3 separate regions of the Homo sapiens genome follow, and regions 2 and 3 are each linked to region 1. The links come from fine-mapping of genetic effects on gene expression. A gene starts in region 1. Each other region holds a variant in brackets. All regions are shown on one strand. Distances are from middle to middle. Region 1 holds the start of CD2 (CD2 molecule). Region 2 has its middle 58 kb from the start of CD2. Region 3 has its middle 34 kb from the start of MAN1A2.

The links. PIP is the estimated chance that this variant, and not a neighbour inherited with it, causes the effect.
Region 2: its variant is fine-mapped to the expression of CD2 in whole blood (TOPMed, PIP above 0.99).
Region 3: its variant is fine-mapped to the expression of CD2 in whole blood (INTERVAL, PIP above 0.99).

Annotation. Positions count from the first base shown.
Region 1 is chr1:116,749,360-116,759,771 of GRCh38, forward strand. It overlaps CD2 (CD2 molecule), which reads left to right and starts at 5,071. Exons shown (of 5, transcript NM_001767.5): 1 at 5,071-5,194; 2 at 5,272-5,592. The coding sequence starts at 5,134. RefSeq lists promoters at 2,591-5,188, 4,746-5,188, cis regulatory regions at 2,821-3,320, 3,658-3,687 and a silencer at 3,321-3,824.
Region 2 is chr1:116,807,143-116,817,554 of GRCh38, forward strand. No RefSeq gene overlaps it. Among named protein-coding and RNA genes, the nearest start is that of CD2, 58 kb to the left of the region's middle. The variant T/C (reference allele first, on the strand shown) is at 5,322.
Region 3 is chr1:117,327,797-117,338,208 of GRCh38, forward strand. No RefSeq gene overlaps it. Among named protein-coding and RNA genes, the nearest start is that of MAN1A2, 34 kb to the right of the region's middle. The variant C/G (reference allele first, on the strand shown) is at 6,045.

The DNA of each region.
Region 1 (10,412 bases):
AAAGGCAGTTCTGCAGTCCTATTTATACCCATTTTAATTATATGCAAATTAAAGGGCAGATTATGCAGAAATTTCTAGGAAAAGGGTGGTAACTTCTGGGTCGCCAGGTCATTGCCATGGAAAAAGGTGGTAGAAGTTGGTTATTGCCATGGCAACAGTAAACTGACATGGCACACTGGTGAGCATGTTTTATGGAAAGCTGCTTCCACCTATCTCTGTTTTAGCTAGTCCTCAATTTGGTCCAGTGTCCAAGCCCCACCTCCAGAGTCAAGTTCCACCTCCTACTTCAGTGCCACCCTAAAACATGCCTTTTTAACATATGGTTTTTTTTTGAGCAAAAGGCCATCATGAACCAGCAGAGGCAGTAAAAGCTTTAAAAACATGGCACAATATTTTTCTTTTGTAAAGAAAATTTACAATTTCTGAAGAAAATAGCCGTTTGTAAAAGGTATCTCCCTCTCCTGTATCAGGAAGAGGAGGACTCTTAACAACTCTTATCAATGGAGAAGGCATTGGCTTCAATCTGCATAACAAACCTTACTAAACACATCTTGTTGTTTGGCACACTTTTCCTGGTCATTGGGTAACTTGCCTCCCCAACCTAGAAGCCCCAAATCGCTTTTTCTTTGTTTAGTCTAATATACTCTATAAGTCCAAGTTCTAACATCCCTTTGGGTTACTCACCACTGGGTGCTCCCATGTTTATGAGGGATACACATCTTAATCAACTTCAATGTGCCTTTCCCTTCTTAACCTGTCTTTTCCCAGTCTGGTTTACAGGGCTCCAGCCAGAGAACCTAAGACAAGAAGAGGAAAAAGATTACTTTTCACCTCTCCTACAATTGGGACCTGTTTTTGTCATATTCCACAGCTTGTCTATATCATGATTTACTTAACCAATTTCCTTCTCTTAGACATTTAAATTGTTTCCAATTTTGTCTTTAAAATACTGCAGCATATAAATTTATAGCCAAGTCTAGTACATAGCCTTCATTATTTCCTTATGATAAAATCATCCTTGTGGATTTGTTAGAAATCCACAAATGTTTGATACTCTAATTCACACTGACAAATTGCCCACCAGAAACTATACCTACTTGCAATTCTCCTGGCCATATACAAGAATGCCCATTTACACCATCATCAACACTATGTTTTCATTTTTCAAATGAAGATGAAAAATGCATCTATGTTAAAACTGACATTTCTTTATTAATAAATAGAAATAAAATTTTTCTTTTGTGGATTGCTCCTTTTATGACTTTGACCCATTTTAGTTTTAAGGTGTCTATCTTTTCTATGTTTACAAGAAAAATTTAATACTAAAAATTTAATGTTGGCCAGGCACGGTGGCCCACACCTGTCATCCCAACACTTTGGGAGGCCAAGGTGGGAGGATCACTTGAGCCCAGGAGTTCAAGATGAGCCTGGGCAACATAGTGAGACCCCCCGTCTCTACAAAAAATAAAAAAATTAGCCAGGCATGGTGCCACATGTCTGTAGTCCCAGCTACTCAGGAGGCTGAAGCAGGAGGATCACTTGAGCTCAGGAGGTCAAGGCTGCAGTATGCTGTGGTGCTGTGGTCATACCACTGCACTCCATCTTGAGCAACAGAGCAAGACCCTGTCTCTAAAATTAAAAAAAAATTGTTATGCCTTTGTCATGTATCTTGCAAGTAATTTGCTCCTTTTAGTACGTTGTCTTTAATTTTTTTATGGCTTTTTACATAGAAAGTTTTCACATTTTACAGAGTCAAATCTACTGACCTCTTTCTTTTTCATTGTTTCTGCCCTTGAAGCCATGCTCATCACTCAGAATTGAATTAGTTTTAGAGGAGCAAAATTAATGTTTCAAATAGAGGAACAGAAAGCTGCTCTTCACATGCTCCATGAGGAAAGTGTGAGGAAGAGAGGACAAGCGCCCTCCAAAGCTGAGATGGGTCAGAGGATGGCTGGCGCCACCTTCTCTCCACCAGGCCTTGACACACTGGAGTTGGATGGCAGCTGGTGGGTCAGCCACTCACAAACAGGAAGCTCCATGCTGCTCCTCTGGGTTGGCGATACTTTTGAAAAAATACGTGTGCCCTAAGCATCCTTTCTTAAAAAGACATTTTTTATTAACAAAAAAGGTGCTTATTTCCAAAATTTTAAACTTCACAGAAATAAATAAAATGTGAAAGAAACATAAAATCCTGGGACCCCAATTCATTATGCCAAAAGGAAAAATTAAGCTGAAAGTTGAGTCACACAAGAAACTGCCTTTCCTTGAGTTCCTAAGCAGAGAGTTACAGATAAAAAGCTGCTGTCTCCACGGGTAGCTACTCTATGTTCACCTTATCTTAAGAAAGTGCCAATTTACTGAGCATGAGAAGAATACAAATTGACCATTCCCCTACCTACTTTTTTTCTCTTGCAACATATGGATTCAGTAATGTGACTGTACCCTCCCTCCTTCCCCTCTGGCCAGCTTTTCCCCTTAACTGAAGGTTTTGAAATAATCTTGAGAAAAAGGCACAAACCACAGATTTTTCCTGTGGTTCTGTGTTCCTTTTTGTCCCTAATGTTGATGAAATAAACTTCTAAATTGATTGAGATCTGTCTCAAATTCTTTTTGGTTTACAAAGGTAAGAAGTGAAAATTTCATTTCAGTTCTCTCACAATCTAATACCTGAAAGACAAGCACTGTAAAAAAATTCAGCATCAACCCTTTCAGGCTTTTTTCCAACACATACCTTAATAACAACATAGTATGCTATGGTATACTGGTATACCCATAGCATAGTATAAACATAGTATCATATATAAAAAGGACTAATCCTATAGATATTGTTTTGCAATGTGCTCTTTTCATGTGATTTACCAAAAGCATCTTTCCATGTCTTACTTTTAGGCCTATGTTATACTATTTTGATGGTTATACAATATTTCATAATATGGATATACCATAATTTTAGTTGTTTGCAATTTTTTATTACAAAAATGCTACAACAAACGTCCTTGAACAGAATTTTAAAACATCTGTGCAATCATTTCTGTGGGATAGATTTCTCAAATTAAAATCACTAGGTGAGAAAAAGACATAAATTTTAAAGTTTGGTGGAAATGATAAATTCCTTTCCCCAGAAGGTATTGATTTACATTCCCTCTGATGTTGTATGAGGGTTCATTTCTCCACACACTCATGTTAATAATGTAAATTATCATCTTTTCTAATTTTACCAATCTGATGGTGAAAAATGGTATTTTATAGCTAAGATATATACATATATTTTTGGTCACATTAGACTCCTCTTGTAGGTTTGATATTTCTTCTGCGAAATATTTCTTCTGCAAGCTGATCATTTATATCATTTGCCCATTTTAAAAACTACTTTGTATTGATTGGTAAGAATTATTGGTAAGAATATTTTGAATATTAATAATTTTATATATATTGCAAATATTTTGTCACGCCTTTTCATTTTGTTCCTTATTTCTTCATCTGCATGTAAATCTTACTTCTTTATATCATCAGTTGTGTTCATCTTTTCTTTCTTACTTTGGATTATATGTTATATGTAGCCAGGCCTTCCATACTCAAACTATAGGAATATCTTTCTATATTGTCCTTTTAGCATTATTGTTATTATTTTATTTATTTAGTTATTTATTTTGAGACAGAGTCTCACTCTGCTCCCCAGGCTGGAGTGCAGTGGCACAATCCTGGCTCACTGCAACCTCCGCTTCCCAGATTCAAGCAATTTGCCTGCCTCAGCCTCCTGAGTAGCTGGGATTACAGGCGCACATCACCACACCTGGCTAATTTTTGTATTTTTAGTAGAGATGGGTTTCACCATGTTGGCCAGGCTGGTCTTGAACTCCTGACCTCAGGTGAGGAGGTCCGCCTCGACCTCCCAGAGTGCTGGGATTATAGCTGTGATCCACCACCCCCGGCCTCCTTTTAGCATTATTATAGTATTTTTGCATTTAAAACTTTAATCCAACTGTAGTTCATTATTGTGGATGACGCTCATACAACCATGAGGTAAATATTTGGCTTTCTTTTACCCAGTAACAGCAAACAACTGCTTTGACTTAATTTCATTTCCTTGGCAACTTTCTGACAGATAATATCCATATTTGTACTTAAAGTTGAAAAAGAAAACGAGCACCACTTTTGCAATTTTTACTCACTGTGACCTAAAGAATTATAACCCTGAAAATGTGCTTTGGAAGTCTGTCATGGTTATTTCTCTTTTTAGGCATCTTTTCAGGGCACACCCGTCTCTGCATCACTGTCTGTTTCCTTGTGTCACAAATTTCTGTTCTTTTTTTCTCTCCCTGTTCCCTCTCATTTATTTTTTCTCCTAATCTCTCCTTTTTCTTAACCACCTATAATGTTAATCACTTTAAATGCTTTTGACTCCTTTGTTTTGGTAGTTTAATTATATTTCATAGTCTCTATGCTTCTTTGTTTTGGAATAAGTTTTTATTTATCTAACTGTGAATTTCACTAGAGTTGTAAAATGTATGCCGAACATAGGATTTGGGGATTGCAAGCATTTACAGCTGATATTCAATTTCTTTCTTTTCACCACAAAAACGATTTTAGAACATGAAAAATATCTTTGGAGAAACAAAAAAATCAATTTCCTCATCATTTTATGGGTCTACATTTTTCAATATAATCATATGGGATAAATGTTTGCATTCTGCTATTGGCTTGTGAACATTTACCTATATTTCTATGTGGTCTTGTTAGGGACAGTATACCTAAGTGGATAAAAGGCTGTGTGGTTGAATTTGGCTTCTTGTTTACAAAAGAGTGATCCTTAGTGATCTACTTAGCCTCTCTGTTCCTTTTCTCTTTCACTGAGATGAGAAAACCTATCCTTCCCAATTTTTTTGTGTGAGAATTAAAATGCAGCAAGAAAACACACACTCATAAACACATCTGCTTTGGCAAAGGAGCACATCAGAAGGGCTGGCTTGTGCGCGCTCTTGCTCTCTGTGTATGTGTATTATGTTTTATGTTACTGTAAAAGATGTAAAGAGAGGCACGTGGTTAAGCTCTCGGGGTGTGGACTCCACCAGTCTCACTTCAGTTCCTTTTGCATGAAGAGCTCAGAATCAAAAGAGGAAACCAACCCCTAAGATGAGCTTTCCATGTAAATTTGTAGCCAGCTTCCTTCTGATTTTCAATGTTTCTTCCAAAGGTAAGCATAAGAGTCAAAGAAGTCCCAACCCAGCTTTCCCTGAAAGTGACTCTCAGTAACTCTTTTGCTTTTTATAGGTGCAGTCTCCAAAGAGATTACGAATGCCTTGGAAACCTGGGGTGCCTTGGGTCAGGACATCAACTTGGACATTCCTAGTTTTCAAATGAGTGATGATATTGACGATATAAAATGGGAAAAAACTTCAGACAAGAAAAAGATTGCACAATTCAGAAAAGAGAAAGAGACTTTCAAGGAAAAAGATACATATAAGCTATTTAAAAATGGAACTCTGAAAATTAAGCATCTGAAGACCGATGATCAGGATATCTACAAGGTATCAATATATGATACAAAAGGAAAAAATGTGTTGGAAAAAATATTTGATTTGAAGATTCAAGGTAAGTGTTCATTCCCTTAATTGCTTTATTTCAGTGTGGGTGCTATTTGGCAAGTTGGAAAATAGCATTTCTAATATTCCCCAGCGCTGACCTCTGCCTCCAGGGGGGCTATACAGGAAACCAGATGCATGTCTCCTGCCCCAGTGGAGACTGTGGTCCAATGCGGGAATGGGATCCACACATCTGATAGACCCTCAAGTCTACCTGCCTACAACTCTGTCTTCAGGTGGTTACAGGAATGTGGGGTTGGGTGAAGAACCTGGATTAAGGTGGCATTAATCGGGAGGGGGACACAGGTAGGCCGAGGGAAAAGGCAACTGTTCCAGGTTGCTGATGAATCGGCGAGCTAAGAGTGGGGCGAGAAGAAGAGGCTGACTGGAGAGCAGCGGGCCTTTCATCGACAGAGCCCATTTCAAGCCAGGCTGCCCTGAAGGAGGAGTTATATGGCAGAAAAGGGCTGGAAACAACATATTTAAGGATGAACAGCCCTTATTTTGGATCTGCTTGTCAGAGTGATACAAGGTGGCAGGTGATTTTTGCTGATATGTGTAGAAGATGCACAAGGTGTGGCTTTGTATATCTCTGCCTGTACTGGGAGGACAGGAGTGGATATTGAGGATGGGGTTAGGGAGACTAGTTAGAAAGCTGCTGCTGTAATCCAAGTGGAGTGAGGACCAATTAAATCAGATTTTTTTTGCATGCGGCCTGGGTATCATTAGGTTCTAAAGCTCCCTGGGGGATTCTAATGAGCTGCCAAAGTCAATCGCCACTGGCCTAGACCAAAGGGTGCCTCTAAAATAGGAAGAATGAGGATAATAAGGGTCAGGCATAGAGAAAGGTGGCTTAGGCAAGGGAGAGAAGGTAGAGAAAGTGGAATCGAAATGCCATTGAAGTTGAAAGCCCGGGGGGATGCTGGGGAAGTAGTGACAAGAAGGGAAAAGAAGAAGCTGCGCTTGACTTGGGGAGGCAGACAGGAACCCCAGCATGAGCACAGGCCAGCCATTCAGTGAGCAAATAAGCATTTCTGTGCTTCACACAGAAAATATCACCAGAAGCAGGGACCCCACCTTCTTCCTCTCTGTCTCCAGCCCCATCTTCAGCACCTGGGCCTACCAGCAATCCCAGATAGTGTCAGATTGCCCACTCCAGCAATCCCAGACACTGTCAGCTCCCCTGAAGTGACAACTTTCCACACCCTAGTCCTGCAACCTTGAGTGGAGAGCACCTTGTAGAAATGTAGTGGGGTTGAGCATGGCGCTGAAAAGGGCCTCTGATTATGGGCTCTGGAAACCACAGATCTCAGGACTCCAAACAGCACAAAACTCGAGTGTCCTGTTTTGAGTGTGAGCCCTACGCGGGGGACCATGCTGGTGTTTTCACATTTGGGTCGCATTTAGCATTGCGGCGGAAATAATGGCTACCAGTTAGGGGTCAAGTGCTTGCTTACATGATCTTATTTAAAGCGCCCAACAATACTGAGACCTAGTTGTTATTATCTCCTTGTTATATATAAGAAAACAGAGACCTAGTCAGAAGCAGCTTGTCCAAGGTCTCATTGCTTGACAGGAGCAAAGTCAGGATTCAAACTCAGAGGTCTTTTTGGCAAGAATGACGACCTTTTCTTTTTTTTTCCAAGCAGCTTCATTGAGATAATTCATCTACCATTCAATTTGTCCATATACTAAAATGGCCTTCAGTATATTCAGAGTTTTGTAACCATCACCACAATCAACATTTTCATTGCCCCAAAAAGAAACCCTTCACCCTTTAGCCGAAAGACAGTGACTTGCTTTATGTGTGTGCACGTCAATGTCATACAACATCTTGATTCAACTTGTAGTTGGTCACTATTACCAGACTTAAGGTGACCATGGCCTTGGGCAAATTCCCTATCTGCTGTGAGTCTGCTTTTCCAATGACAACTTCAAGGGATATTCAGTGAGACAAGGTGTGTACAAGTGTCCTGCAGTGCCTGGGGCACAATGCCTGTTTTCTCAGTGCTAATGCCCTCCCACATCTCTTTGTTTCTCCAAGCTTCTCTTTTTTTTTTTTTTTTTTTAATTGAGATGGCATCTTGCTCTGTTGCCCAGGCTGGAGTGCACTGGCATGATCTCAGCTCACTGCAGCCTCTGCCTCCCAGGTTCAAGCGATTCTCCTGCCTCAGCCTCCCAAGTAGCTGGGATTACAGGCATGTACCACCACGTCCGGCTAATTTTTGTATTTTTAGTAGAGACGGGGTTTCGCCATGTTGGTCAGGCTGGTCTCAAACTCCTGACCTCAGGGGATCCGCCTGCATCGGCCTCCCAAAGTGCTGGGATTACAGGTGTGAACCACGCACCCGGCCTCCAAACTTCTCAAACTCCAGTAGTTGTGCCTGCATTTCCTTCATGAGGGAGTTGCTGCTGCAGGCTGAAGAGGCAATGGAGGGCCCCTTAGAAGCAGATGCTAGTAGGGAAGGGGTTAATCCCAGCAACTCAGAATTAAGGAGTTCTCATCCATGGAAGGCCTTAGGTTGGATCAGTTCTAAGACGCTATCTTAGTGAATGTATACGGAGGTACTACTCCACAAGGGTGCCCATCACTGCATTATTCATGTTAGCGAAATACTAGAACAGTCAGCAGTTAGAAACTTATTAATCAGTTAAATTAAGAATGCATCCTTTAAAAAGATGCATATATGCATTTATTGATGTTCATTAAGAAAAGAACTTCATAATATAATTTCACAATAAAGGGGAAAAGGCAGACTGTAAGATCACATAAATTAGTTTTAATTTTTAAAATATTACATATATATATATAGAGAGAGAGAGAGAGAGAGAGAGGCAGACAGAAAGAGACAGGGTCTCACTCTGTCGTCCAGCCTGGAGTGCAGTGGTGAAATATTGGCTCACTGCAGCCTCTGCCTCTTGGGTTCAAGCAATTCTCATGCCTCAGCCTCCTGAGTAGTTTGGATTAGAGGCGCATGCCAACACACCTGGCTAATCTTCATATTTTTAGTAGAGATGTATTTCACCATGTTGGCCAGGCTACTCTTGAACTCCTGGCCTCAAGAGATCCGCCCACCTTAGCCTCCCAAAGTGCTGGATTACAGGCATGAGCCACCTCTCCCAGCTGAAATATTATATTATTTATATATATACATATAAATAGAAAATATCTGCTAAAGATATACATGAAAATATTATTCATTATTGACTTTGAGTGGTGGCGTTGTGGGTAATTTTTAATCTGCTTTAAACTTTTAAAAATATTTTATCAGCTTGTACAATGATTGGAGTTGAAAGCCCACGGATGCTGGGCAGGGAGTGATAAGAAGGGAAAAGAGGAAGCTGGCTTGGGGAGGAAGACAGGAACCCCAGCATGAGCACAGGCCAGCCATTCAGTGAGCAAATAAGCATTTCTGTGCTTCACACAGAAAATGTCGCCAGAAGCAGGGACCCCACCTTCTTCCTCTCTGTCTCCAGCCCCATCTTCAGCACCTGGGCCTACCAGCAATCCCAGATAGTGTCAGATTGCCCACTCCAGCAATCCCAGACACTGTCAGCTCCCCTGAAGTGACAACTTTCCACACCCTAGTCCTGCAACCTTGAGTGGAGAGCACCTTGTAGAAATGTAGTGGGGTTGAGCATGGCGCTGAAAAGAGCCTCTGATTATGGGCTCTGGAAACCACAGATCTCAGGACTCCAAACAGCACAGAACTCGAGTGTCCTGTTTTGAGTGTGAGCCCTACATGGGGGACCATGTTGGTGTTTTCACATTTGGGTCACATTTAGCATTGCGGCGGAAATAATGGCTACCAGTTAGGGGTCAAGTGCTTGCTTACATGATCTTATTTAAAGCGCCCAACAATACTGAGACCTAGTTGTTATTATCTCCTTGTTATATATAAGAAAACAGAGACCTAGTCAGAAGCAGCTTGTCCAAGGTCTCATTGCTTGACAGGAGCAAAGTCAGGATTCAAACTCAGAGGTCTTTTTGGCAAGGATGATGACCTTTTCTTTTTTTTCTAAACAGCTTCATTGAGATAATTCACCTATCATTCAATTTGTCCATACACTAAAACGGCCTTTAGTATATTCAGAGTTTTGCAACCATCACCACAATCATGTTACTGTGTTGCTGTTATAAGTAGAAAAAAAATATTTCCATTCTGAAGAGACGGGCAAACTTCGTGACCCAACCTCTAGACTATGTACTAACTCTGTTGCTGAATGTTGATAATTTCCATTTTCTTCCTTCTCAGTAACGCAGAATCTTGGGATGAGAAGAAAACTTTTAATTTAATTTCTGCATGCCTATATATATCGGGACATAAATGAAGTTTGACTATGGTGTTCCATGGGGAAAATATTGGTGTCTGGAAGTCAGAGTGGGAGGGAATCATTGAAAAATAAGCTAGTCCATCTATATTATGAATGGAGAGAAACTGAGAGGGAAAAGTGGCAAGTCTGGGGGGAACAAAGTAAAGAATGAGAAAAAAAAAAAACAGAAGACGAGGAAAAGGAAAAGTTCACACAGCTAGGAAGTGATGGGGCTAAGATGTAGACCTGAGCCATCTAATGCTAGGCCTAGGCATTTTCCTTTTGTGGTGCAATCTCTGTGCGGGAGAGGCAAGAGGTTTGTGATTATCGAATGCATGAATTACCACTAATAATGTCAGTGCCTAACGATCTGCCCAGGGCTTTGCCACATGTTGCTCCTTTTGTGACAGGTAGGGTATGTTTTTCTGATCCTTTTCTGATGCTCTGAGGAGGGCCAGCGTAGACCCTGTGAGCAACTGAGCAGCTCTGGGCTGGGAAAAGGCAGAATCAAGTCTC
Region 2 (10,412 bases), 58 kb after region 1:
AGGGTTTATGTTGAGAAGATAAATTTAATCACTAAAATATTATCTCCTTTATTCTTATTCTTCTCCATATTTCTATTCTGTACACATAAGTGTATTCAGCTTAAGTATAAATGTCAGGAAGATTTAAATTTATTTTCTGTGATAATACCATCATTTTGGAACTATCCTAATGAGAAGTCCTATATTTGATTTTACTTACAGAACGTTTGGTAGAGTCGGTGACATTGAAATTGGCTTAGAACAAACAGGTTGTTTTAGAACTGAAAAGGACCTTAGCATTTCACTCCTACAAAAATATGTTTTCAGAAACATCTGGAGAAATCTATACTGTCAAAGTAAGAGTTTGCTTTTAACATATCAGTCACTACCCCTGCTGGCACTGCATCAGCGTCATTGTTCTGTCCTTTCCTCTGCCTCAGCCCTAACGCAGACCCTCATCATCTCTCCCTGGGCCAGCTAGCTGCCTTTTGATGGTCTCTGTGCCTCTCCAGTACCCATCCGACCCATGTCCCATGCTGAGGCCACAAGTCTGATCTATATTCAGTCTGTGGTTTTAAAATTTAGACATTGTCCTATTTTCTCACTATTTCCTAAGTGTATTTCGTTTCTCTTCCACTACTGAAAGCTTCTGGGGACGAGAACCATTTCACAAAACGTTGCATGTTTTCTCCCCCCCTCCTTTCCCTCCTCTTCCAGCACCTGGTCCTGAACACTGTGTGTTCACAGTGCACTCAATAAATACTTGTTGCATTGAATTCCCTAAACCATACTAATTATTCATTCAGCTCAAGTCCCTGTGTCTATGTAGAATGATGGATTTCAGACACAAGGACTGAGGGTCAATTCAAATCCCTCGAGGGCCTATTGGCATCACCGTTGCGCACCACCTTCTCCTTTCACACTGGTAAACAGAGGGCGCAGGATTACGCCGCCCCGCACTCCTAAGCAGCTGTCCCGCATTTTGTGCCATCCCTAGAATTAGTCCTAGTGGCGCCACGAAAATAAACCCATTTTTTTCCCCAAATTCTGCCAACAAAAGGGCCAATGAATGTCAAATTAATGACTCATTGAAAGTCCACTGCATCCTGTTTCTGACTTCTTGGAGGAAGTAGACCCCAAGATTTCCGAGAACATTCTTAGTAATTTCTCCACCAAGCACTCCTTTCAGATGCTTACAAGAGTGACAATGTCTCCATTATTATAAGCCTGAGACTCAAAGACATCCTGGAGTGTGATATTTGAGTATTGTCAATCTGTTTCTAGTTCTAAGTGCAAATGGTCACAGTTTGGAGTCGTGCCATAGGCCTCACCTTTTTGCTTGTTCTTATGTAACGGGATCTTGCAGGTACAAACAAGAAAGATGCATTACATAACAGGAGAAGATGTTTCTAATTGTTGAGATCGATTTTAATACTGCGTCAAATAAACTGGCAAAATAACAGTGCCATGTGTACTGAGAGCACAATAAGTAAAAGAAAAAACTATACAAGTCACAGCACATACAAACGGCTGATGCTAAAACATGTTCAGTGAATCACTGTGCCCAGCAGGGACAAGCAGGAACTTCTAAGAAGATGCCAGAATCTTCCAAGTATTGGGTAATTCCACACAAATTGTCTGCCCTGATCATGGTGTAAACCGTGGATTATTCAGAATTCTTTATAATGCTGTGGACTGAGTTCCAAATCTTAGTTTTCAAAAGCGAAATTTGAGACAGGATGTACGTACCAATAACTTAAATGAGACAAGAAATCACTTTGGGGAAGCTGATAAACACATCCCTTCAGGCTGGAAGTGCAGGCTCAGGCCTGTAATTTCAGCGCTTTGGGAGACCAATGCAGGAGGATCGCTTGGGCCCAGGAGTTTGAGACCAGCCTGGGCAGTACAGTGAGACAACGTCTCTACAAAAAATAAAAAAATTACCCGGGCGCAGTGGCGAGTGCCTGCAGTACTAGCTACTTGGGAGGATGCGGTGGGAAGATGACCTGAGCCCAGCAGGTTGAAGCTACAGTGAGCCGTGATCACATCACTGCACTCAAACCCAGGAGACAGAGCAAGACCCTGTCTCCGAAAAAAAAAAAAAGAGAGAGATCCCTTTAGCTAAATATGTCTGCACTATGATTGTGCAAACTTGCATATTTTACTAATAGTTTAATAAATTCAATAAAATCATTGTGGCAACATACAGCAACGATGTTACCAGACTAACGACAGCAGCTAGTGTCAGAGATAAAACTGAAACGTGTGAAATCGAAATGAAAACCAAAGTTAGATTTACTGTTTTTAAAACTGAATATGCCTCTATCAGAAACAAGAAGTTACATGAAACTTTGTAAAATGTCATAGATCAAAATATCCTAATATAAAAACTTACTGGATAACTGATAAGTATTTTCTTCCAAATAGTGGAGATTTATTATCTGAGAAATCAATTTATTCATACTCTCCACATAGAATGCTAACCAATTAAGGAATGACAGCAGTTATTAGAGTTTCCTAATGATTCGACTTTGAAACAGAAGACACTCTACTATTCCCCTTTTGAGACTCTAGAGTAATTAATAAGAGAATTGTTAGATTTTTAAGCAAGCTATCCTTTAAAAACATGTGTTTGTTAACTTCTATTCATCATAATTAGGATTTTCTCAATGTTATACCTTCAAAACCAAACACAGAAATCAACTGGCTAACATGAGACTCAAACTGTTATCCACAACCTCTGACTTAAAGTTATTGTGCTCATCAAAACAGCCTCATTTTTAACTGATAGACTTCAAAATAAATAAATGGCATACACTTGAAATAACAAACCAGTAAAATATTAGGGAATCTGTCCAAGATTTTAGAGTTGATAAAATTTATTTATTGCTAAGAAAAAAATGTTAAAACCAGTGGAATAAACTTTAGTTATGAGGTGTTTGGGGTTCTAGAATTCTAGGATATCATCATGGTAGCGGGGGCACTCTCTCTGTGTGTAAATAATTGTAATTAATTGTAGATCTGCAGAGTTCAAAAACTGCATGATAAAATGACATTTGCTTTAGCTAGGACACTGTTGTATTCAGTACAATTCTGTATTCAGGACAATTCAATTCAATTCTATTCTATTCAGTACAATTTTGTATTCAGGACAATTCTATGATATAGTAAACAGCCTTCTAGGACTAGTTGGAGCGTGAGCCATAAGCCACAGGGCCAAGGATTTGTCTTGAGTTACGAGTGAACAATGATAACTGAGTAAACAGCCTCCCTAATTTTGTATAGAATTATTCATGGAGGCTGCAATGCAGGCATTGTGAGGAAAGGTGAAACTAGGGGAATCATTCTTCAGCCTTCAGCCCTGGACGGTGTCACTGTGAACAAAAGCAAACCAAAGGCATATCTATGGAGTAAAGCCACTGGGAGTCACCCACTGGGGAACCCACTCAATGCTGATTACACTGATGTGGTTTCTCTTGGTAAGGGACCCATCAAAGGGTTTTACCCAGAGCCAGGGAAGCTGCATGGCCTCTTGCCGATAATCACACATGAAGAGTAGCAGGAATTTCTATGTGGCTAAGATAAAGTACGTGAAGAAATGCTTAAAAACTGCTTGGAGTAGAACACAATTTACTTTAATGCAAAAGCAGTGCCCAGGAAGCTGAGTGAGATGTAAAGGCAGAAGTCTAAAAGGGAGAAAACTCAGTAGGCAAAAATCACTAAATGATTTCTACAAAATCATTTCCTGAGCACCCACTTTGGTATATAATATGCTTTAAGCTTTTCACTACTCTGCCGGGCGTGGTGGCTCATGCCTGTAATCCCAGCACTTTGGGAGGCTGAGGTGGGAGGATCACCAGGTCAGGAGTTCGAGACCAGCCTGGCCAACATGGTGAAACCCCATCTCTACTAAAAAAAAAAAATACAGAAATTAGTCACGCTTGGTGGCGTGGGCCCGTAATCCCAGTTACTTGGGAGGCTGAGGCAGGTGAATTGTTTGAATCCAGGAGGCAGAGGTTGCAGTGAGCCGAGATCGTGCCACTGCACTCCAGTCTGGGCAACAGAGCAAGACTTCGTCTCAGAAAAAGTAAATAAATAAATAAATAAATAAATAAAAATAAACTTTTCATTACTCCTAAGGAAAAGTAAGTCTCAGAGTCTCCTTTTCTTGGCCAGGGTCACATGAAGAGTAAAGGACCCCCTGTGAGATTTGAACTCAGATCTTATGACTGATGGCAAGTCCAGGCAAGGGTCTTTCCAGGTCACTCAGCACTTTTCTGATACATTGTAAGGAAATTTGCAAAGACTTTCAATGCCTGTGTGGAAAGCCTCTGAGTACCTGCTGAATGTTAATACTCTGGGCAAGGCCCGTGACTGCCATCCTTGGAATGACCTACTTTGCAAGGTTGGCCATTGGTTGGCATCTGGGAATTTGAATTGTAAACAGTTCCCTAGACTGATATAAAACTTTTCTTAAATGACAAGAGTGGCTCACTGTGCCTAAACTGTTTGCTATGCTGAACATCTGATTTTCTTCTGGGAGTCTGGAATTTTCCTACTTGTTAGGCATAGACTGTCTACATGACCAGCCTCCAGTAAAAATCTTGAACACTGGGTCTCTAATGAGCATCCCTAGTAGACAACATTTCACATGTGTTGTTACAAGTCACTGCTGGAGGAATTAGATGTCCCTTGTGTGACTCTACTGGGAGACTCTCAGAAGATCATGCCTGCTTTCCTCTGAACTTTGCTCCTTTTCCCTCTGCTGATTTTACTTTTCATCCTTTTGCTGTAATAAATGATAGCATGAGTACAACTATATGCTGAGTCTTCGTAGCAAATCATCAAACCTGGGGGTAGTCTTGGGGGCCCCAGTACACTGCCTCAAAAATAGCAAACGTAATAGTGATGAATTTCAAGTCATTGACATTTTCTTTCATATTTAATTGTTGATTCACATAATACTTGTGCAGGGTATTAAAATTCAGCAAGTACTCAAAGGCTTACAATAAAAAAGGATAGCCTCTTGTTTATCTCTTCCCCATACCTTCAATTTTACTCCCTAGAAAGAACCATGTTCATGACTTTTAGACTTTTCTTCTGATATTTATATTATTTATATTGATACATATGCTTTTACTTAAACTTTTGACATTATTTATCATGTTTCTCCTATAAAAAATGAGGATTTAACTATCTTACAACCAGTCCCCCAACACACCCATGTGAACTTTTCTCTTCCTCCATTCTCACACAGTGGTTTTTGGCATGATTTTTGGTTAAATAAACATTCAGTGTTTACATTATTTTGCCCACCTACTCTTCACAGCTGAGCCACAAAA[T/C]GTACCGTGATTAATTTCCTTTCTTAAGTTACTTTTTAAAATGTCCAGAAGATAATTTTTTTATATTTTTATTTGTTCTGTCACCAACTCTTCCTCTAAACTCTGTCAAACTTTTAAAATTTCTCTCAGTGACACAAACACAAAAGGTAATTTATCATATTCATTTCTTTTTTTTAAGATACACCTTTCAGAGTTCTCTGACTCTTCTGCTATAAATGTGTCATCCTGGGAATATCTCTGCTTTGCTTCTGTGTTGAATGCCTTGTTCTGTAGCTCTCATATTCTGCCATTTCTTCATTTGATGGAGCACATCCTCTAATGGCCTCCTAGAAATGTTATAAGGGAGTGAAATGTTTGAGACTTGCATATCTAGGAATGTGTTTATGCTACTACCCTTACACTTGATTGACAGTTTGGCTGGGTATACGATTCCAGTTTGCCAATCATTTCTCCTTAGAATTGTGAAGACATTCCTCCACTTTACTCTAGATTCTGAGCTTGCTGCTTGTTAGCCTATAGGATTTCTGATTTTAGGATCTTCTCTTTTTCCAACTATAAAATTTCACAATGATGTGCCTTGGTGTTATAGTTCTGGGAACTCAGAAAGTCCTTTTCAATTGGGAGACTCAGATCTTTCAGGTCAAGATTTTCTTGTATTACTTTCTTGAAAAATTTATTATTCCATTTTATCTGTTAACTTTTTCTAAAATGCCTACTAGTATAATGTTTTACTTCTTGCATTGATTCTCTAAGTTTTGCATTTTTTCTGCTTTTTTTCATATCTTGATCTTTTTGGTTACTTTCTGAAGATTTCTTCAACATTTTCCAATATTCTGCTGAATTTTTATTTCATGATATTTTTACATTTCCCATAGTATTTTTTAATTTTTTGAATGTTTATTTTATATTTTTCTGGTTTCGTCTTACGGATGTAACATCTTCTGACGTCTCACATGATACTAAGCCCAGGGTATTCACCCTGCTCCACTTCTCTGTTACTAAAATTTTGTTACTAAAATTGTCTTTCATGGCGAACACTTTCCTCAGATCCCTTGTGATTCTTAGTTATCCATTTACATTTATCAACAAGGAACTAAAGAGCTGATTGTGTGCACAGGTGGAGCTTGCTATCCAATGGGCTTCACTGCAGTGCTATAAGGTAGGAGCCTGGCCATTTTGCTGGGGAGCCTCAAAGTGTCAGGTCTTTTCTCTTGGTTTCTCCATAGAGGAATCCTTCTGCCTGGGAGATATAATTCTGGAAGCGAATGTTCTGCGAATTGAGAAAGGAAGGAGACTGGATGTCACCTTTAAATATAAACTTTTTCACTCGGTCCCCATTTTCAAACCTTTGTACTATATCAAACACATTCTATTAACAAAGCCCAACATTGAACCAATCAGCAAGGGAAAAATCCTCACAGGATCCAGCTCCAGTATAAACAGATAACTGGCACATTCACCCTTCCTTGGCCTGTTATCTCTGAGTTTGGAGTCTCTTTGTCAATTTCTTAAGCATAAGTTTTTGTTTCCTAGTGGGGTGAAGGAAGGGACCTGGGGTCTGTTTGCTGCTTACACGGACTGTGAATCGATGCTCCTCTTTTTATCTCCACCTCTTATCCCTAAGTTTCTGGTGCCTCTAATCTGTGAGTCTCTATGAGGCTCACTTGAGCAAATTGGCTTCCCATTATAGCTTCCCCTATTGCACATGGAGTTTCCTCCATGCTGCTATATCATTCAGCATTTGTCTACCCGCTTTAAGACTTCCAAGCTTTTGTTGACATCCTTTTTCTAGGGTCATCTTTTCTCATGTTTTCTTTGTTCTTGTGGATTTATGACTTTTACAAAAATTGTCATTTTATTGGAGTTCCAGATGGGATAAAGATAACTATTCCTTAAATTCCCCATGTTTAACCTACCAATCTTTTACTGAAAGTTTAAGTATTTATTCATAAATTAAAGAAAACTAGTTCGATTAAGCCGTGATTAATAACAAATCATTTTTAGTTTGGAAGGTATTTAATTTACTTCCATGGGTACAGACTTCTTCAAATCTTACTCTATAACTATCAAAGATTGGTCCAAGAAACACAAGCATCAAAATCAACTTATGGTATTTGTTGAAAATGCAAAAACATGAGCTTACCCTAGACTGTATGCATCAGAGTCTTTGGGGATTGGGCTAAGTACTCTGCATCTTAAACACATTTCTCAGATGATTAACAACTCTGAAGTCTAAGAACCACTGTTCCATTTTGTACTATTAATAAGTGATAGAATCTTTTGATTTGGCATTTTGGTGAAAAAGTACATTTTATTAGGAAAAGAACCCCCAAAAATGACTCTCAAATAATAATGTCTTATTTGTAGTTTTTTATCCATATCTTGTTAAGTCTCGCTTATTGGCCAAAACCACTATAAAAGAAAGCATCATCAGTCATCTGTTGTTTTGCTACCTGAAACTTAAGGAAAGAGTCTCAGAATTCCAGCTCCACAGATTCAGACACATGAAAATGACAACAAACGTCACTGCCTCCATTAGACTGGGGGTGAAAATGAATGCATGTTCCAAGGCCTTGATGAACTAAACTAATTATGCAAAGTGAAACCCTCCATTAGTCTTTTGTTCCAGTCCTAGTCTCTAGCTGACTGTAAAGTGGGAAATCAACCTTTATGGGTTCCAGGAAGGCCTGAAAAAGGTAACAGCAACCTTCCCCCCTCACCCTCCAGGCCTTGGCCACACAGCGACAGGTTTTGTTTTGTGGCAAAATATTTTGTACTCAAGATTATTACTTTTTCTTTTAAAATAGTAACATTAATGTTCTTTCTGCTTATAAAATTAATACATACTGACTGATGAAAAATTAGAAAACTGAGAAAAAAATGAGAAGAAAATAAAATTTACCCAAATCCCAGAGATAGCCAGTGTTAACATGGTAGTACATTCCCTTCTAGTTCTATTTCTGCACATCCGTGTTTTAACACAGTTAAGGACTTTGAAGCAGTTGTATACCCTGCTTTTTTTCTACTTCTCATTTTGTAAGCCTGTCTCCACATAAAGTTCTTCGTACACATATTTAAAGGTGTATAGCTACCCATTCATTTGGCCACTCCCCAACTGCTGGATATTTAAGTTGTTTCCAACTTTTTGCTGTTACAAATAACATGATATTCAGCTTTTTATATAAGTTTTGGCCCACATTTCTAGTTTTTTCCTAAGGATGCATTCCTGGAGGCTATGAATATTTTAAGGCTCTTGATAGAAGCTGTTACACTATTTTTCAGAAAAGTTCTTTCAAGACACTCTTTTCTACTAGCAACAAATGAGAGTGTTCCTCTCATTACAGTTTCAACAGCTCTAGATATTATAAATTTTTTATCAAAATAACATAGATTATTTTAAAAATCAGTATTCTCAAAAGACATAATAAAAGACACCAGTCCCCTGGCCTACCGTGCTCTGCCCTCCTGTTCACAGCCCAGATGCCACTACTCTTAATGTTTTTAGATTATTTTAGGTATTTACAATAATATGTTTATTTCATAATTTCAAAATTTTAGACATTATCTATTCATTTACTGCTGCAAAAGATTAGGACTTAGCTAATTTACATCAACTCCACACTTCCTCACTCTTTTCTTCTCACATCCTCCCAATAAACTTATATCGCTGTGTTTAAGCAAAGCAATAATAAATCTACAATTATTAAGTAATATAACAATAATATCTTGTTATAATTACCATTAATATATTTGTTATGTTATAATTAACAAAATAATAATTGTTGTAACTGCACAAATATTATTCAACACGTTGTATATTAATATTATGCATTGACTTCTCTGTCTCTTTTTCTTTAGGCTGGCATTTTTAATTGTGCTTTTCTTCTTGCATTGTTCTCCTTATAGTTCACATTTGGCACCATTACATCAAGTATTCTTTTAAGTCTCCCATTTTCCTAAAGATCTTCCTGCCAAAGTTCTTCATACTCATGTTTTAAGATGGACCAGGAATCAAATTATTATCTAAACAGAATTCTAATTAATCTAATTTTTAATTCTCTGACTCTGCCTTTTGGTGCCGGAAGTTTCTGAGCCTTGAGGTGCTGCGGGCCAGCCAGCTGTCATCCTGTCTGCACCCTACGGTGGCTCTGTGGGCACATCAAGCTGTGGTTTCTTCCAGCCTACTCTTTCAAACACCAGTTTGCAAGAATTCTGTTGAAATTTCTCACTCTCAGATAGCCCATATCCCAGTGATTCTCAACTCATGGTGAATTTGTCCCCCAGGGAACATCTGGCATACTGCAGATAATTTTCGGTTACCACAACTGAGTTGGGGTTGCTACTGGTGTCTAGTGGGTAAAGCCCAGTGATGCTGCTAAGCGTCCTGCGATACACAAGACAGCCTTCAACAACAAATAATTATTTATCATTTCAGTAGCTTCTCAGGATAAAGAAGAGGTTAACATGTATATTCAAATTGACATCTTTTTTTTGAGACGGAGTCTCGCCCTGTTGCCCAGGCTGGAGTGCAATGGCGAGATCTCAGCTCACTGCAACCTCCTCCTCCCAGGTTCAAGCGATTCTCCCGCCTCAGCTTCCCGAGTAGCTGGGATTACAGGCGCCCGCCACCACGCCCGGCTAATTTCTTTTTTTTTTTTTTTCTTTAGTAGAGACGGGGTTTCACCATGCTGGCCAGGCTGGTCTCAAACTCCCAACCTCAGGCGGATCCGCCTCGGCCTCCCAAAGTGCTGGGATTACAGGCGTGAGCCACCGTGCCCGGCCTCAAATTGACATCTTTATATCATTCAAGTTCTTGGAGATTGTTTCTTCAGTCATAAAATGAGATTGGTCCTTACTACTATTAGGACTAAATAAGATGATGTACAAACAGGATCCAAAGCATAAAATTTTTTCGAAACTAGTCAGAAGTTATTATTTTTAAAAATGTTTTGATAGTTTGGCAGATTAAAAATGCTACCTTGTTTAAATTTACATTTTTTGTACTGGTGAGGCTGAAATACTTTCATGTGTTTATTTTGCAATCTGCATTCATTCTGCTGTGATTTGCCCAAGTCTTTTGTTAACATTGAT
Region 3 (10,412 bases), 580 kb after region 1:
ACAACAACAAAATTGGAAAGGATTGAGCTTCAAGGTTTGCCTGGCACTCAGACTCTGAGAGTATATACAAGCAGCATTCCTAAGCTTGTAGGTCCAAGAAGTAGTAGATGCAGGCTTTGCCCTAACCTCGCTCATCACCTCGAAATAATACCCTTGAAGGACTAGGGCCCATTTCCCCACACCACTTTCCACTTTAAAATGTCACTCAAAGGATCTAACGGTCTCTTTGCCCTTTTTGAACTGTCCCACAAGGGAAGAAGATCATGCTATATCTTTAGGTGAAAAAAGCAAACTACAAGGAAATATGAATACTTCCATCTATTTTATAAAAAAAAATGTAGCTGAATCTAGACAGATAAGTGCTAGAAAGATATAGATTGTGTTACCTTTATAGATGCACTAGGTGCTATATGAAGCGCTCTTTTTTTAAACTCATGTTTTGTCCTCAGTCTCTCAAATGAGGCAGATATTATTATCATCTTCATTTTACAGATGAGGAAACTGATGCATAGCAATTATTTATAAAACTTACCTTACAAATGCATAGAAAAAAATTCTGGAAGCATTTACTCTAAAAGTTGTAAGACTATGTGTGATGTTTGCTCTTTTGCCTGTGTATAATTTCTAAAAAGAGTTTGTATCACTTATGTAACAAAGTGAACGGGGAGACTGTCAGTTCCCACGTTCGCGGGGAGACTGTCAGTTCCCATGTTCATTTTCCCATGTTCTCATTTGGCGTGTGAGCAGTGGAGGGCTTGGAATCACAGACCCCGCCCTGCTTGGGAATGGGACAATGATCCGTTAAGATTTGCAGATGGTTTTCTGCTCTGTGTTATATGGGATGGTAGCAATTTTTATTCAATTGGAAGGAAGGGCTGGGTGCAATGGCTCATGCCTACAATTTCAACACTTTGGGAGGCTGAGGCAGGAGGATCGCTTGAGCTCAGGAGTTCAAGACCAGCCTGAGCAACAAAGTGAGACCTCCGTCTTTCCAAACATTTAAAAATTAGCTGGGCATAGTTGTGCCTGGCTGTGGTCCCAGCTGCTTGGGAGGCTGAGGTGGGAGGATTTCTTGAGTCTAGGAGGTCAAGGAAGTCAAGGCTGCAGTGAGCCGGGATCATGCCACTGCACTTCAACCTGGGCAACAGAGCAAGACCATGTCAAAAACAAACAAACAAAAAAACCATTGGCAAGAAGAAGTGGTTACAATAATTTGGAAAGAACCCTTGCTCTAGGCCGCTTGCATTTTATTAAGGGTGAGTCTTCAACCTTCCCTAGCAGGCTAGGATTATTCTGTCAGAGCCAAACCCCAGATAAGTCAGGCTTGCAGAAAATGTGTATTCATCTACCTGGTTCTATGAGAACCAGGGAACTAGTGCTAGCTCATGCCACTATTCTATTGAACTGCTTATTTTTGGTTTGTGTTATTAATATGCATTGTTTAACTTCTTCAATGAGATTATAAATTCCTGGGTGGAAGTGATGCTCTGGGAAATACCTCTTCATTTTTCCCAGAATGGATTAAACATAAAAAGTACACTTTTTATGGTACTTGAATGAAATGGAATCAAATATATATATATATATAAATAAAATGGTAGATTTTGGCAATTTGGGGTATTTATTTTCTGTAACAAATAAATCAATAAACAAAAAATGGAAGTGTCTTCCCTTTCCCTTCCCTTCCTTTTCCTTTCCCTTCCCTTCTTCTTTCTCTTCCCTTCTCCTTTCTGAGCAATTCCATCCTAAATCCATTGTATGGAGCAGAGAAAGGTAGACATCCATTCAGATGGGTGGCCTGGTGTGGGATGTCAGAGCCCAGATGGGATGGGGGCTCTACTCAGGGACAGGGGCAGCAATGATGATAAGATATTGGCTATATACAGGGGATTTGATCTAATAAAAAAATTAAAAATAATGGGAACTAAGGTTCTCGTTGTAGAAGAGAGTTAGAAATAAGGAAAGGGAGAAAACTAGAATGAACACTGTGGTGTTGAATTGATATTGGAGATACCAGTGTGAACTCATGGATTTCAGTAAATATATGTAAATATGGAAATAAATTCAGATGTAAATGTGTTTATGTATATCTTTGTCAATACGTGTGTGTCTGTGTGTGTCTATCTGTGTGTATATTCCTTACCTAAATACTTTTCTTTGTTGTGTTTTCAATTCCACATTTAATTCATCTGGGATTTATTTTTATGTGCAGTATGAGATGGGTGCCACATTTTTTTGACCAAATAGCCAGCCAATTTTCCCAACACTGTTTATTAAACAATTCACCTATCTTCATTGATCTGAGATGCTTCCATTCTGATATGCACATATTAGGTTGACTGTAAACATCTTAGAAAAGCAACATTGATCTTGTTAATGATGGAGCAATGCTGACACATCTCCATTTCTCCTGCTCTAACATCTTGGGCATCAATAGCCTATTTCCAACTGAGTGTTCAAAAGACATCCTTAAGGTCAACATTTCCCAAACTAAACTGATCCCATTTGTCTTCATGAATTCCTGACCTCAGAAAACAACATCATCAGCAGCCTAACTGCCCAGTGATCTTTCAACTACTCTGACCCTGTCCTCCCCTCTCACTGTTAAATCTCTTCCTTCTTTCCCTATTCTCTGCAACTCCTGAGTTTGGACTTTTCTCATGAGCTATTATGATTATATTATATTTGTTTCCAATGTAATATTGAAAATCTTTCAAAAATTGAAAGAATCCATGAGAAAATAAAGCATTTGGCCTGTTTGACAGTCAGGGCTGATTTGAAGAATCTGAGTGACCAGATCCCATCTAATCTACCTTTCACACTGATTTCTGAATAATAAATAGAAATAATAAGTAAATAAATATAATATAGTCATATGGGCCTGTGCCTGTGATTCTGCAACTCAAAAACCTTCAAGTCTGTGTGTTGTCTTAAACACCATAGCTGAACATTCAAGGTCACTGGGGTTGACCTTCTAGATGTTCTTTCTTCTGCCTGACTTGCACTTTCATCACTTGTATTAAGCTCCGGTCCTGGAACATGCCAAATATTTTCCCAATTTTGTACTTTTTTGCCTTGCATGGAAAGCTGCCCCTTTCCCCTCTATCAAAAATTGTATTATCTTTTAAGGTCCAGCTTAAACACAGCCCTCTTCCATAAAGTGTTTCCCTAATCCTCCAGCTGGAATTATTACTTACCACCTGTTTTCAAAGCACTATGTTTGTGCTGTATTGTATTATGTGTTTCATTATGCTTAGTATGGAAGTGCTATAACCTTGGTTTTCAGATCCAGATTTTAGCCCCTGAAGCCAGGACTGCATCTTTGTTACCTCTGACCACTGCCTGCAGCTAGCAGTTTTAGTACACTCACTTTGGCACCTAGCTAAGTGCTCTTACCCCTCTCCTCCTCTTCCCTTCCCTTCCATATTGATTTAATGAGCCGCAATGTATACCAGGCACTGTTCTAGCACTTAGGACACTGTGATGAACCAGACAAAGTTCTTGTCCTTATGACGCTTATGTTTTACGAGGAGTCTTAATTAACCCTTTCAAGAACCCTGTGACATAGGGGCTATTGTAAATTACTCAGGAGTTGAGTAACATATTTGGTAAGTAGCATAACTGGAATTCAAACTCAGATCTATGTGATATCACTTGTCCCTAGCACCATAGCTTGTTGAAATATTTGTGGAACTGGGAATAAGTTTGGTGCTTCAAGAGGATTAAATAGGATACTCCTCTAGATGCTGAACTGAGAGGAAAACAATTATGTGTCACTACTGAAAAAGCCATGACCCCCTTTGCTCTCTCCATATGCTCAGGAAATAAATATAGAAACCAAGTCTTATTGCCAAGTTTGATCTTCAATTCTAACTGAGGGCCCATGTTGCTTTATTACAGAAAGTTGAAAAGAAAGAGAAACTCACATTTTTTTTGAGGTAGATGCATCCACATATTTTATTTTTTTAAAATCTTCATAAAAACAATGCAAGGTAGATATTGCTGTCTCCATTTCTACAGGTAGAGAAACAGATCCAGAGGGGTTAAATAACTGTCCACAATCATGGCTATTTCCTGGTATTATGTTTTGAACAGGAATTTTATAAGCCATACATAGAACTTATATCAATTGAGTCATTTTAAATGTACATGGAGAAGATTCTATTTAAAGGACTTCTATAAAAGGTAGATTAATTCAATAAATGGTGATGGGATTTACTGATTTGCCATTTTGGGGTTAAAAAAAAAAAAGACAAGTAAAACTGGATCCTTATATCATCTCTTATACCAAAATAAATTCCAGATGGATCAAAGATTTACATGTAAAACATGAAATCACAGACATCCTAGAAGAACACATGGATGCATATTTTTATAATTATAGAATGGGCAAGACTTTACAAAATTTAACCCTGGCTGGGCATGGTGGCTCACGCTGTAGTCCTAGCACTTTGGGAGGTCAAGGCAGGCAGATCACCTGAGGTCTGAAGTTCAAGACCAGCCTGGCCAACATGGTGAAACCCAGTCTCTACTGAAATACAAAAATTAGCTGCACATGATGGCAGGTGCCTGTAATCCCATATACTCGGAAGGCTGAGACGGGAGAATCACTTGAACCCGGGAGACAGTTGTTGCAGTGAGCCAAGATTGTGCTGCTACACTCCAGCCTGGGCGGCTGAGTGAGACTCTGTCTCAAAAAAAAAAAAAAATATATATATATATATATATATAAAAATATATATATGTATGTATATAAATATATATATGTATGTATATAACCCCAAGCCCAGAAGTTACGAAAGATAAGATTAGTAAATTTGATTATATAAAAATTTGAATTTTGTATAGCAAACTTTAGTCTCTTTAAAAAAAAAATAGGCAAAGGTTAGCTGGGCGTGGTGGCTCATGCCTGTAATCCCAGCACTTTGGGAGGCCGAGGCTGGCCGATAACCTGAGGTTGGGAGTTCGAGACCAGCCTGACCAACATGGAGAAACCCTGTCTCTACTAAAAATACAAAAAATTAGCCGGGCGTGGTGGCGCACGACTGTAATCCCAGCTACTCGGGAGGCTGAGGCAGGAGAATCTCTAGAACCCAGGAGGCGGAGGTTGCAGTGAGCCAGGATCGTGCCATTGCACTCCAGCCTAGAAAGCAAGAGCGAAACGCCATCTCAAAAAAAAAAAAAAAAAAAAAAAATAGGCAAAGGCAAAAAGAAAATGAGGAGAAATATTTTCTTTCACTTTTTTTTCTTCTATCCTTTCTTACCTTCAAGGAAAGGAGAAATATTTTCTTTGGTTTCTAGACCTTAGGTAGATCTCACCAAAGGACTGCTGGGCTATTTGAAGCCAAATCCCTGCTAGTAATGCAGCACTGTATGGCCTGGCCATGTCTCACATGACAAAGTGATAGTCACCAGCCAATCAGAAACAGAATTGGGGATCAGTATCTATCCTGGACTGTATGTTTCCTGCAAGTCTCAAATTACAACAGAATTCACAAATTACTACCTGGGGACTTGATGGAAGAAAATAATGTGATTCACTGCTTGAGGCTTCAAAAATTGAAAGAATGAATGTGGAAGTAAAGCATTTGGACTGTTTGATAGTCAGGGCTGATGTGATGAATCTGAGTGACCAGATCCCCAGAGCTCCCTGTCATTCCTTCTTGAAGCTGGGTTTCGGTCATAGGAGAGGGAAGAAAAGCAAGAATGAAAGGGCAGGTGAAATCTATTTGATTCTTGGCGGAAAACTAGGTTTTCTGTGTGAAGTGGTGCTTTACTATTTTTGAAGGATACTTACCTGACAGGAAACTATAACTGAGTTTATGTGACTTTTCTCAGCAAAATTATGGAACATCTCAGTATAGTAAACATTGGGGACTGGGTTAGAGGGCTACAGGGGACTTGCCGTGTATTTGTGTTACATTTATATTTGCCAAGTGCATATCCTCTCTTAAGCTCTTGCTTAGGCATAACAAACGTGAGCTTATTTGGGATGAGCAATAGATATTTTATTTTGTATAGCTGTGCTTCTATTCTCCATAGTT[C/G]CACTAGTATTTAAATTATTTTCTAATGAGACTTTCTGCATTATGCTGAAGCTTTGCAATAGGAAGACCGGAGTTTAGGAAGTCCATTGACCAACCCCAGCCTAGTCATCTTTGCTTTGTAAGGGAATCTCAGTGTTTGTCATTGACCCAACCCAGTCTAGTCACCTTTGCCTGTGATAGAATCTCAGTGTTCGTGGGGTGTGTGTCAGAGTGAGAAAGAGGGATAGTTGAAAGAGGGGAGCATAATCAAAGAGCTCTAACACTTTGAGGCCCAGGTGGCTCTGGTGTGGGACATCCTTAAAGGAATATGACTCTGGTAATCTTTGCATTTCAAAAAAGATTAAGCCTGCTGCAGTGGCTCATGCCTGTAATCCCAGCACTTTGGGAGGCCAAAGTGGGCAGATCAGTTGTGGTCAGGAGTTTGAGACCAGCCTGGCCAATAAGGTGAAACCCTGTTTCTACTAAAAATACAAAAATTAGCCAGGTGTGGTGGTGGGTGCCTATAATCCCAGCTACCCGGGAGGATGAGGCATGAGAATCACTTGAACCCAGGAGGCAGATGTTGCAGTGAGCCAAGATTGCACCACTGGGCAATAGAGCAAGACTCAGTCTCCGAAAAAAAAAAAAAAAAAAAGATTAATGAGCTGTCACAGAACCCTGAGAATGAGACATGAGACATGGAGAAGACAGTGGAAACCAGGTGGATCTTCACACCTAAAAACTTGAATAAGAAGACAAGGGAGAGAAATTCCCAAGCACACCTTATCAAGCTGGGCAGTTTCTCAGTGCCAGCCTCATTAGCGAGCTGGAGTGGATGTGCACAAACACTCACATTACTTCATGGAAACAGTTAAACAGTGGAACCCAGAAAAGTTTGGACTTAGGGCAAATCAGCAAGGGGACAGGGTGAGGGCAGGAAGACTGCGCTCAGAGATGTTGCAATTTCGGTATAAATGCCTATGAGGCCTCCCAGGCAAGAGAAGTCTGAATATTGTTACATTTTAGGGTTCATCCAGGATTTTCCTGAATCCTAATGCTGTACACCTCTGTTGCAAGGACAAATTATTCCCTCTAAGAATTATGGTCAACTAGTATTTGGAAATGTTGATACTGCAGGAAGCCTAATGCATGGAAATGGGTGTGGAATCTGAGCTTGTTTGTGACTGCCAGTGAATAGTGAAGAGCCTGAAATGAAAAATACCTGACAGGTTCCTTGAAAGACCCTGGAAAGGGATAAAATGCTTGGCAAGTTTTTTAGGAAGGGGGAGGAAGCAAATGTAGCCTTACTAGAGCTTAATACTTTGCACCCCTGGAGGGATGTTGGGAAAGTATCTGGAAACTAATCTTTCAGCCCTGTCTTTTTTTTTTTTTTCTTCTGAGATGGAGTCTTGCTCTGTCACCCTGGCTGGAGCGCAATGGCACGATCTTGGCTCACTGCAACCTCTGCCTCCCAGGTTCAAACGATTCTCCTGCCTCAGCCTCCTGAGTAGCTGGGACTACAGGAGCATGCCACCATGCCTGACTAATTTTTGTGTTTTTAATAGAGATGGGGGTTTGGCCATGTTGGCCAGGCTGGTCTTGAACTCCTGACCTCAGGTGATCCACCCGCCTCAGCCTCCCAAATGCTGGGATTGCAGGCATGAGCCACCATGCCCAGCCTGAATACTGAATTTCTGTACAGACTGAAGCTATTCCTAGATCAAGATAGACAAGGAATGTCAGACATGACGCAAATCCTTAAGTAATAGTTCACCCAGTGGATTTAAACCTAAGCAGGCCATGTGTCATATGCATATGAGCTCAAGTTCTGGAACAGACATGGTGGAAACCATGGAGGTGAGGGGCAAAAGCCAGGTGTGTTTCTCAAGAGTATCACCACAGCAGCCCTGGGAGGAGAGACATTTAAACTCTGGCTAGGGAAAACCTGTGACACTGCGAAAACTGCATGTACCAGAAGTGAAGTAGTAATAGCCCCAAACACAATCCTAACAATAGCTTACATTTACTGGTTGCTTACTAGGTTGCAGGCATTGTGTGGAGCACTTTACGAGCTTTATCTCATTTAGGAAATTGAAGGGGGTTGATGGAGAACTTTAGAGGCTTGACATTTGAGGTCATATATATCCTAAGGGATATTGTACTTCAATAAGAGTGGTAAAATGTTCAAGAACTCTTCAGGAGGTATGTGGAAGTCCTATAAACTGTAGAGCTACACATGTAAAATTGCTAAATTATCAGTGAACAAATTTTTTAAAAGCTTACTTTTTAAAACTGGAAATCCTATGGTGGAAGATGGTCAAGAAGAAAGCATGGATTAGAGTCTCTGTGAACAAGCAATCATTGAGGCTGCCTGGAACAGAACACTTCAATCAAAGCCCCAGCTGCCAGTCCCAGGACAGGCTCCTAATTCCCTCCAGCTGCCAAGACTAGAGACAAGCAGCATGAAATGCCAGTCCAAATCAGGGGGGAGTCACCCAGACCAATTGGGACAGTCACTTAACTGCTAGAAAGGCAAAGGCCTTACTTCACCCTAGGGCTTCTGAGAAGTCTGGTTAAGTGGCCTTCTGCCAGCTTCAAGGGTCAGTTAGCCAAGAAAAAAAATGCGAAAGAGGGTGCCCATAAAACAGCTAAACAAAACTGTGCTTTCATGGATGGTGCAGAGAACAAGGCTGTATGCAAACAGAAAATGATCAGGATGAAAACCCATCTTTACTATTCCCAATATAAACTAGCATTACAGTGAGTCAGACATGGCAATGTGGGCCAGGATATGAACTGGTCGTATCACAATAGCAGTCCTTAGGCATGCAGAGATTTAAGGATATCAGAGTAGAGTTGAAAAAGAACATGGAGAGATTTGGTGTTCAAGCAGTGCAGGAGAGTGGATCCCAAGCAATGATTTCTTCTCAGTCTCCCCATGACCCATACCTGACCTACCTCCCTTTGCAAGAATCTGATGGATTAGGGTTTGTGGTTTTAGCATAAAGGTTACCCCAACCTGCATTTTTTGTGGGAGGACAGGGTCTTGCTCTGTTGCCCAGCCTGGAATGCAGCAGCACAATCACAGCTCACTGCAGCCTCAATCTCCTGGGCTTAAGCAATCCTCCTGCCTCAGCCTCCCAATTAGCTGGGACTACAGGTGTGTGCCACCATGCCCAGCTAATTTTTTGTTTTGTTTTGTTTTGTTTGTTTTGTTTTTTTTTTTGAGACAGAGTCTCATTCTGTCACCCAGGCTGGAGTGCAGTGGCATGATCTCGGCTCACGGCAAGCTCCGCCTCCCGGGTTCACGCCATTCTCTTGTCTCAGCCTCCCGAGTAGCTGGGAGTACAGGTGCCCACCACCACGCCCCAGTAATTTTTTTTGTATTTTTTTAGTAGAGTTGGTGTTTCACCGTGTTAGCCAGAATGGTCTCCATCTCCTGACCTCGTGATCCACCTGCCTCACCCACCTCGGCCTCCCAAAGTGCTGGAATTACAGACATGAGCCACTGTGCCTGGCCACTAATTTTTTTTTAACTTATTTTGTTGCTCAGGCTGGTCTCAAACTCCCGGCCTTAAGCAATCCTCCTGCCTCAACCTCCCAAGGTGCTAGGATTACAGGCATGAGCCATCACAAGCAGCATCCTTATGCACTTTGGAGCTGTGGGTAGGGTTCCAAAGGCTTGAATTTCCAGAAGGAAGGGAAGAAGTGGATGTGGATGTCAGTGGCTGTGTGCTTGAAATGGAAAGATAGGACCAAGTGAGAGGTGAAGCCAGCTGGACTTCCTGGGTCAAGTGGGGACTTGGAGAATTTTTCTGTCTAGCTAGAGGATTGTAAATGCACCAATCAGTGCTCTGTGTCTAGCTAAAGGATTGTAAATGGACCAATCAGTGCTCTGTAAAATGGACCAATCAGCAGGATGTGGGCAGGGCCAAATAAGGGAATAAAAGCTGGCCACCCCGGCCAGCAGCAGCAACCTGCTCAGGTCCCCTTCCACGCTGTGGAAGCTTTGTTCTTTCACTCTTCACAATAAATATTGCTGCTGCTCACTCTTTGGGTCTACACTACCTTTATGAGCTGTAACACTCACCGCAAGGGTTTGCGGCTTCATTCCTGAAGTCAGCAAGACCACAAACCCACCAGAAGGAAGAAACTCTGGACACATCTGAACATCTGAAGGAACAAACTCCGGACACACCATCTTTAAGAGCTGTAACACTCACCACAAGGGTCCGCAGCTTCATTCTTGAAGTCAGCGAGACCAAAACCCCACCGGAAGGAATAAATTCCGGACACACAAGGAGGAGCTGCATGAATAAGAACCTACTCCAGTTTATTACAAGTACTTCCTCCACACTATGGGCAGCATGTTGGTATCACAGAGATCTG